2 separate regions of the Homo sapiens genome follow, and region 1 is linked to region 2. Evidence: fine-mapped expression QTL. A gene starts in region 2. The other region holds a variant in brackets. All regions are shown on one strand. Distances are between the middles of the regions. Region 1 holds the start of MIR4506 (microRNA 4506). Region 2 holds the start of ASB2 (ankyrin repeat and SOCS box containing 2).

Region 1 (4,304 bases), 30 kb after region 2:
GATAGCAGTAAGGATCAATATTAATAGCATGGTAACATTAGCAATAATAATAGCAATATTAATAGCAAATTGCAATTAATAATGTTATTGGGGTTTTCCTTTATTAGGGGCTCTGTGCCCTCCTAGACCTGTGAGGCCTCTCTCAGGGCAGAGCCCAGGCCCTCTTACATGGAGTGAGGGTTAAGAGCATGGCCTCTACCATCAGAATATCCACCATGGCCTCTGCCATCAGACCATCTGGGTTCAAGTTTGGCTCCATCTTTATGAAATGGGTGGTCTGAGGCAAGTGGTCTAGGTGTTCTGTGCTTCACTGTCCCCATCTGTAATCTGGAGATAAGAGCAGTACTGACCTCACAAGGTGACCACCCACTGTGGATTCAGATATAGCCTGTGGAAAGCACGATGTTCAGCACGTAGTAGGTGCTCAGGAAAAACCAGCATCATCGTGGCTGCTTGTAGCCTCTCAGAGGCCTCTGTTCGGGCTGGCAGGCCCCTGGGTCTTTTTTTTTTTTTTTTTTTTTTTCCAGGCGGAGTTTCACTCTTGTTGCCCAGGCTGGAGTGCAATGGTGCAGTCTCGGCTCACTGCAACCTCCACCTCCTGGGTTCAAGCGATTCTCCTGCCTCAGCCTCCCGAGTAGCTGGGATTACTGGCGCCCACCACCATGCCCAGCTAATTTTTGTATTTTTAGTAAAGACAGGGTTTCACCATGTTGGCCGGGCTGGTCTCGAACTCCTGACCTCAGGTGATCCGCCTGCCTCAGCCTCCCAAAGTGCTGGGATTACAGGCATGAGCCACGCCTGGCCAGGCCCCTAGGTCTTGATGTTGTTGAAAGAAGCTGGGGGTAGCCCCAGGTAGACTCCTCCTTCCTAAGGGTCGTTGTTAAAGGTCCCGTGCATTACCGTGGTTAGCACAGCAGGCCCACCACGCGGTGGCGTTACATTGAGGACAGCAACTTCCCGGTCACTTGGCCACTTGCTGATCTCTTCTCCTTCCCCAGGTGCTGACATCAACACGCAGGCCAGCGACAACGCGTCTGCCCTCTACGAGGCCTGCAAGAATGAGCATGAGGAGGTGGTGGAGTTTCTGCTGTCACAGGGTGCCGACGCCAACAAGACCAACAAGGACGGCTTGCTCCCGCTGCACATCGCCTCCAAGAAGGGCAACTACAGGTCAGCCCAGGCTCCGCCAGCACCCAGGCAGCTCTCCCGAGGCCCACACTGGGAGTAGGGGATTGGAGGGGTGGGCCTGCCCTGAATGTCCCACCCACAGGATTAGGGAGGCCCAGGAGAGGTCAGAATGGACATCACCTTTCCCATGGAAAGGAGGGAAACCCCTTAGCAGTTAGCAACATGGAGTGAATGCCTGTAACAACAGCAACTGAAATAATAACAGCAAACCCTTATGCAGCGCTTACCAGTACTTCACATCAGAAACTTATTTAATCTGCTTAACAGCTCACTGAGGTGGATATTATTATCTCTGTTGTTTAGATGAGGAAGCTAAGACACAGAGAGGTTGAGTGACTTGCCCAAGGTCACACAGCTCATAGGCGGCAGGTACTCACCTGCTCCAAAGGTCACAGCTACAGGAATTCTATCCTGGGGGGCAGATATGAGTCTGAGCTAATGAATATTTCCGGGAGTACAGGAATGCAAGGATAACCTCCCAGGCAATTAGCAAGCATGCAAGGAAAACCTACAATAACACAAATAGCACCAATGATAAGAACTAGCAGTTATTGAGCAATTACTAAGTGCTAGATACTCTGAGTGAGAAGAGAGAGGCTTAAGTTCCCAAGGAGCAATCTGGAGGAAGGGAAGAAGCACAGACATGTGAATTCATGACATCATGAAAGAGCATGCCGAAGAGCTGCATGGCTCCTGTGGAGACAGACGAGCCGGGGCTAGAGGCAGAGGTGTGCTAGAGCCAGCTCGTGCCTGTTCTCAGGAACCGACTGCACACCTCTTCCCAACTCTGTGTTTACTGACCTCACATTGATAGCTTAAAATTGGCCATGGGGGAATATTTACATGGGGAAATAGGCAAATGCTACAAACCAGAGTCCTTTCCCCCTTCTCTGCCCTTGCTTG[A/G]GCCAGTTTTTAAGCATTCCCAGCAGCACTGCTACATGGGGAAGCCTGGGCCGCAGAGGTGAAGCTCCAGCTGCCCTTGAAGGATGGACAGGGCTTGGTCATTTCCAGAGTGTGACTCATCTGCCTCCCATGTGAGCCTCACACTGTGCTGCGGGTATGCGGGTCAACCCGGATTTTCATTTTACAGGACAGGAAACGAAGACTCTGGTAGTTAAGAGATTTGCCCCTTGAAAGCCCCGTCCCCAGGGCTAGGACTTAAACCCCAGCATCTGACCCTTTTTGCTGGACAGTGCTTCCCAAACTGTCCATTCACAGATTTTCTTCCTGATTTTAAATATCTATACTCTCATCGTTTAGTAATTTTTCCTTTAAATAATGTTTTTACTTACAATGAATTTATTTTGAAGAGGAAACATTTATCACACTAGTATGTTATCCATTTACAATCAATTTTAAAAACATTTCATTTAAAATCCCATCTCATGTACCCTGATGACACTTGGGGAAACACACCCGAATCTTCCAGACAGGCAGGAGAGTGAGAAGCACAGACTGCGTGTATTGGGGCATGTTTGTTGTCTTCACTAAGGCAGAGGGAAATGGGGTCAAAGTGACATTCCAAAGACTGAAATGAAGACTCAAGGCTTCAGAGCCGCCCCTTAAAGCTCCAGCCCCTTCTGTGCAGGTTGCCTGCACCAAGACCACCCAAAGATGCCCTCCCCACTCCCCACACCCCCCAGTACATACACAGAGGAGACCCAGCCTTTTCTGGACAGCACAGCTGTCCACAAGGCTGACAGATCTGGGTGTGAATCCCTGCTGAGGCCATTGGGAAAGTTGCTTAACCTTGCTGAGCCTCATTTTCCTCATTTATAAAATGGGAAATGGTTACACCCGCCTCATGGGGTTGTCGGAGGACCAGTAAAATGGATACGTACGGATATAGAATGGAAAAAAGCACCTAGCAGAGCGCCTGCACCCAGTGTGTGCTCAGGCGTCCTATGCTCACCCACTCTTACTTAGGGAGAGTGCATTCCATGATTGAGCGGTTCAGACAGCAGCTCAAGCCAGGCAGTGGGCATGGACAAGACGGCTCCTTTCTCTTGAGTTCCACAAATCATCGGGCATCAGTCAGAGTTGGGCAAACACAGTTTACCTTGAGCCTGACCCCAGAGAGATCCAGAGTGAACACACGGGAAGTGGGTGCACTTTGGAAATCTCCTGGCCCACTGCCCCCCAATTCTAGCCTGCACATCCATGTCCCTCTGGGCTATTTTTAAAATGCCATATCAGATCCGGTGAATCAGAATCTCCAGGAGAGAAGGAGCCCCACTGTCTCTTTGAAAAGCTCCCTGAGCAAATCAGATACAGCCTGTCTATAGCTGCAGGGACCATTGATCTAATTCAGGCCCTGGTTTTACAGAGAAGGAAGCCAAGGTCAGATATGGAAGTGATTTTTGAGATAGCGGCAGGGCTGGGACCTTCATCTGGGCTGCCTTCAAGTGAACCCAGAGGTGTTGGCAGTCTGGCCCCAGCTGGAGGAGAAGCTGAAGGGGCACTAGGTGGCCTTGCGGATGATCAGAGAGTAAGGCGCGTCCTGCCTGGAACACTGTGTCCATGGCTGATGTTCCTGTAAACTCATCTACCTTGGATTCACGTGGATTCCCAGGGCGAATTCCCTGGTTATTCAACCTCCACCCCCGGGCCCCATTTCCCTCTGTCCCCCAAGGCTCAGAGGGGCCTGGGCCACTTTTTAGGGCTAAGCAACAAAGGGTTAAAGCCTGGTTCCCAGCAGCTTCTGCCACCAGGCAGAGCCCATGGCCAGCAAGCCCCGAGCTCATCACTCCCTCCCTGGGCATACAGCATTAAAGGCCCTCTGCTCGGGGATTTGATGTGACATTCCATAGGCATTCCACACTCTGCCACCTGCCAACACACCCTGGCCATCCGTCCCAGGCATGGAAGGCAGCACCAGGAGCCGAAGGCTGTTTGCCAGATGGTGTCTTCTCGTCAGCACACTTAACCGCAAGGGGTGACATGCGGGTGTGCTGAGAAAGGAGCCCTAAAGTCCCGATGTCGCAGTCACCTCCAAGACACGCATTTTCCTGTTGTTCATTTCCAGTTTAGCAAAGCCACCGTATGAAATCAAAGATCAACACCAAAGATAGACGTATTAAGAAACTGTGTGAGTTAGCGCAGAGCAGATGCCCCAA
Region 2 (4,000 bases):
AGTCAGAAAAAAGTTCACGGGTAGCACACGAGAGCTGAGGAGCATGCAGCTGAGACCGCAGTGAATATTTGGTGAGTGTCTGGGTTGATTATTACTACATATCAAACTACCTCAATCCCCAGTGGCACGAAACAATCCTTTTATCATAGCTTGTGGTTTATGGGTCAGGAAGTTGTGGGTGGTTTGTCTCTGCTCCACGTGGCATTAGCTGTGGCAGCTGCAGGTGAAGGATCCACCTCCGAGAGGGTGTCTTCACCCCTCTGCCTGGTGCTAGATGCTCTGGGGGCCCTGGGTGTTGCTTGCTTGGACTTCCTCACAACATGGCAGCTACAAAGCATCTCATGACCTAGCCTTGGAAGTCTCAGGACATCATTTCCACTGCATTCTATTGTTAAGTCCATCACTAGGCCACCCCATATTCAAGGGGAGGGAAGGAATAGACACATCTTGGATGGAGTTTGGGGTGTGTATGTGTGTGTGTGTGTGTGCATGTGTGCATGCCCATGAGGCAGAGGGCAACCTAGGAGGGGCCTGGCCTGGCCACAGCCCACCTTCCAGGTCAGATTGGGAAGGGGCAGGTGGTGGGCAGGAAGTAGAGGAACCTGTGTTTTGCCTCCAGCAAGGAGCCCAGGAAAGCAGCCCGGCCTCGGGGAGCCGTCCCACAGAGACGTCTCTCGGGGAACATCCTACTGGGTAGCAGAGTCTCCAAAAAGTAAAAAGAATCTGACAGCCCCTTCTCTGCCCTTCTCCTACACTCCCTCCATAGCACATGGGTCTGGAAGGGGCTGAACTTGAGCTAACTTTGAGGGCCACCCAGCCACAGTGGCCTGGGAAGACTGACCCAGCTGGGGTGATGAGCAATTTGGCAGGTACCAGGGAAGCTGGGGGACTGCCTGGGGACCACTGGTGTCCTTCCCATCTTTAGCACCAGTCAGACCTCCAGAACCTTGACTCAACCCCGTGGCACCTTGTATACTGAGATGTATTTCCTTGTGGAATATTCGAAGTGCGTGTAAAGGCATCCTGAGGTTTCCTGAGTTTGAATCAGTGAGAAATCATGCTGTGGCCATCATAAATCCACATCCTCCAAGGGGAATGGGCCACTGAAACAAAAATGATTCTCCCCTTAGAGGAACAGACCAAGTCATGTTTCTGGACCCCTAACTCTGAGGCATGAGATGTGAACACACGGGTGGGAGAGTAGGTGCCTGGCCATGTCCTGTCACATCCCGGATGCTCAGTGCATGTGGCTGTGTATGTGTTGTCTTTGACATTTGACCTATTCCAGAAATGGGACGTTCTTCCCTAGACCAGGAGGAAGGGCTCTCTTCTGTTGTATATCTCTGCCCAGGGCTTGCCCGCATGCCTCTGTGTTTGTTTGTTGGCTCATTTGTACCCTGGCCCTTTGTATCCCCAGCCCCACCCCACAGTATCCAGCAGCCAGACACCTGCTATCCCCAAATGCTGCCACAAGCTCAGCACCAAACCTTGATTTCTCCAAAGCCCTTTTACGTCAACTCCTTCATCTCCTCTCTCCCCTTCTTCCCTTCTCTTTCACTCCATCCTCTTCCTTCCTGCTGTCTTGCCTTCCCTCCTTTGTTGCCTTTACTTCTCCTCTTCCCCTTTCTTCCTCCTCCCTTGCTCCTCACTCTTTGTCTCCCAACTATGCGTCTCCTCGTCCTCGTTCCCTGCCTCTGTCTCTGACCCACTGCATCTCTCTCCTGTCTGGCTCTCCCCTGGGTAGTTCCAGAAACATACCCATATATGGCCTCCATGTCAAGGATCACAAATGATGACATCACGTGAGGGCCAAAGCTCCGGGATCCTCTCTGAAGTGAGAGTCTGTATTCGATGCACCCGGAGGAACGGAAGGCAGGATTGCAGCTTCCTCAGTGCAACCTCCAAACAGGAAATCTGAGATGTATAACATCTTATAGTTTGGCTTGTCAACGTTGGTCATGCGGTGGCCCCAAAATAAACTCCCTGCTTCAAAGGACAGCGTTTCAGAACTGCCTGGCAGAGCAGCCAGAAGCTTGGGGCCAGGGCAGAAGGAAAACTCGGGGAGCATGTTCTGAATTAAGACACTTTCAAGAAAATCCTTTGTATTACCCCTGAATTGTACCCTTGTTTCAGAGCCTAACAGGTAATGCATGCTTTCAACTTTCTTATACAGATCTTGCAAAAGATTCTTTGGCTGGTGGGGATTTTCGGCTGCAGTACTTACTGGAAACCGCTTGTAGTCAAACTGTGATGTTGCTTTTCCCTCTCTCTCGTATTTTCTTGAGTTATACAGCACGCTGGTGACTTTCGTTTTGGATGCAATGAACAGAGACTCAGCAATTTGCATGTACTTACCCATTCTTCTGGAGGACTCTGGCTCAGAATATCACTCTGCTGTGCACTTCTAAAAATGGAAATGCAAAAGGACTTATCAATGATGCTATTGTTGGGTCTGTAGGTCTTGGGCGGTATCTGTGTCAGACAAGTGACTTTCAGAAATGCTTTCAGGCCAGGCGCACAGATAGAGGTTTTCATGAGTGGGAGTTAATTTAATGTAGCTGTTGCAGAGTGCCTAGGCATGCACGGTATTGTGGGAGACCATAGCAGCCAAGGTGCCATGTGCTCTGCTTTCAACTGTTTGGGGATTAGGAGAGGAAATGGAGGAATGTTATTTATGTGAGATCCAACAAAGCTGTGGAATGCAGGGATGCAAGAATACCATGCATGTGTGTGCACACGCATATGCATGACACATTTAAGGAGGCCATGGCCTTTGAAAGGATGGGTGGGATGCCTCAGGGTGGAAACAGAGACCTCCAGGTGGAGGAGCAGCTTGGGCAAAGGCAGGGAAGTCAAGGGACCTGGGGTGATGATGGAAAGTGAAATGTGGCTCTGGCAAAGGGTTCTGCATGTGAAAAATGGGGGTGAGGCTAGAAGGGGAGGCCAGAGGGAGAGGCACATCCTTCCAGGCCAAGCAAGAAGTTGGAACACTTTCTGAGAGTTTTTGAGCAGAGGACGGCATGCACATAGCCACATGCATTGAGCATCTGGGATATGAAGGGACACAGCCAGGCACCTACACTCCCACCCGTGTGTTCACATCTCAGGCCCCAGAGGTGGAGGCCCAGAAACATGACTTGGTTTCTGGTGCCTCTAGGTGGAGAATCATTTTCATTTCAGTGGCCCATTCCCCTTGGAGGATGTGAGATTTGGCTTCGGTGGCTCTTCGGGAAGCCAGGGGTATGCACTGGAATGAGGAGGCAAGGAGGCTGGTGACTCCTAGGGAGGGCAGGTAAATGAGGAAGGCCTGAAGCAGGGCAGAAGCTGAGCCCCTGCACAGGACAGGAATGCTCTTCTGAAGATAAGCTTGTTTCGTGAGGCGAGGGCTTGAGGGGGCTCAGAGGGACGCAGGCAGAGCCAGCTGGGGCCAGCACCCCCGCCACAGCCCTGACCTCTGCCTGGGCAGAAGCACCATGAGGCAGACAGTGGCAGATGCTCGAGGCACTTCCAAAACAGTTGGACGGGTCCTGACAGCTGGTGGCAGGCCCATGTGCTGCACAGCGTCCCCAAGAAGCTGGCAGCAGCTCCGCTGGGTGCCATGCTGGTTTGCATCATCTGTTCTTGCACAAACAGGCCGGGTCATGAGTGCCTTGTGGTGGCGGGGGTGGGGGACACTGTCTAACCCACGCACGGTGACCTCACAGTGAACAACAACACAGGCCATACCAGCAAGCCTTTGTTGAGCACTGGCCCAAGCTTGTGTGCAGATTTCTCTCACTGACTTCGGTCAAGGCTACCATGAGTTACAGGTGATCGTTACTCCCATTTTCAGGTCTGGAAACAGGTTATGAGAGCTTAAAAGTCTTGCTTAAGGCTGGACGGCTGCAAGTGTTGGAGTCAGGAATCTGACCTTTTGGTCTGCAAGGTCCACATTCAAAGCCACAGCGTCCTGTGGCCTCTCAAGGTACTGTGGCAGTGGTAAACAGGACCATCGTGCACC

Evidence for each region. PIP is the estimated chance that this variant, and not a neighbour inherited with it, causes the effect. A credible set is the group of variants that fine-mapping cannot tell apart.
Region 1: its variant is the best candidate, but not a certain one, in a credible set for the expression of ASB2 in whole blood (INTERVAL, PIP 0.67).

Annotation. Positions count from the first base shown.
Region 1 is chr14:93,944,215-93,948,518 of GRCh38, reverse strand. It overlaps ASB2 (ankyrin repeat and SOCS box containing 2), which reads left to right. Exons shown (of 10, transcript NM_001202429.2): 7 at 999-1,170. It overlaps MIR4506 (microRNA 4506), which reads left to right and starts at 217; the gene lies at 217-293. The variant A/G (reference allele first, on the strand shown) is at 2,092.
Region 2 is chr14:93,974,577-93,978,576 of GRCh38, reverse strand. ASB2 (ankyrin repeat and SOCS box containing 2) reads left to right here and starts at 2,007. Exons shown (of 10, transcript NM_001202429.2): 1 at 2,007-2,143. It overlaps LOC107984663 (a long non-coding RNA gene), which reads left to right. Exons shown (of 4, transcript XR_001750861.2): 4 at 1-1,152. RefSeq lists an enhancer at 2,955-3,526.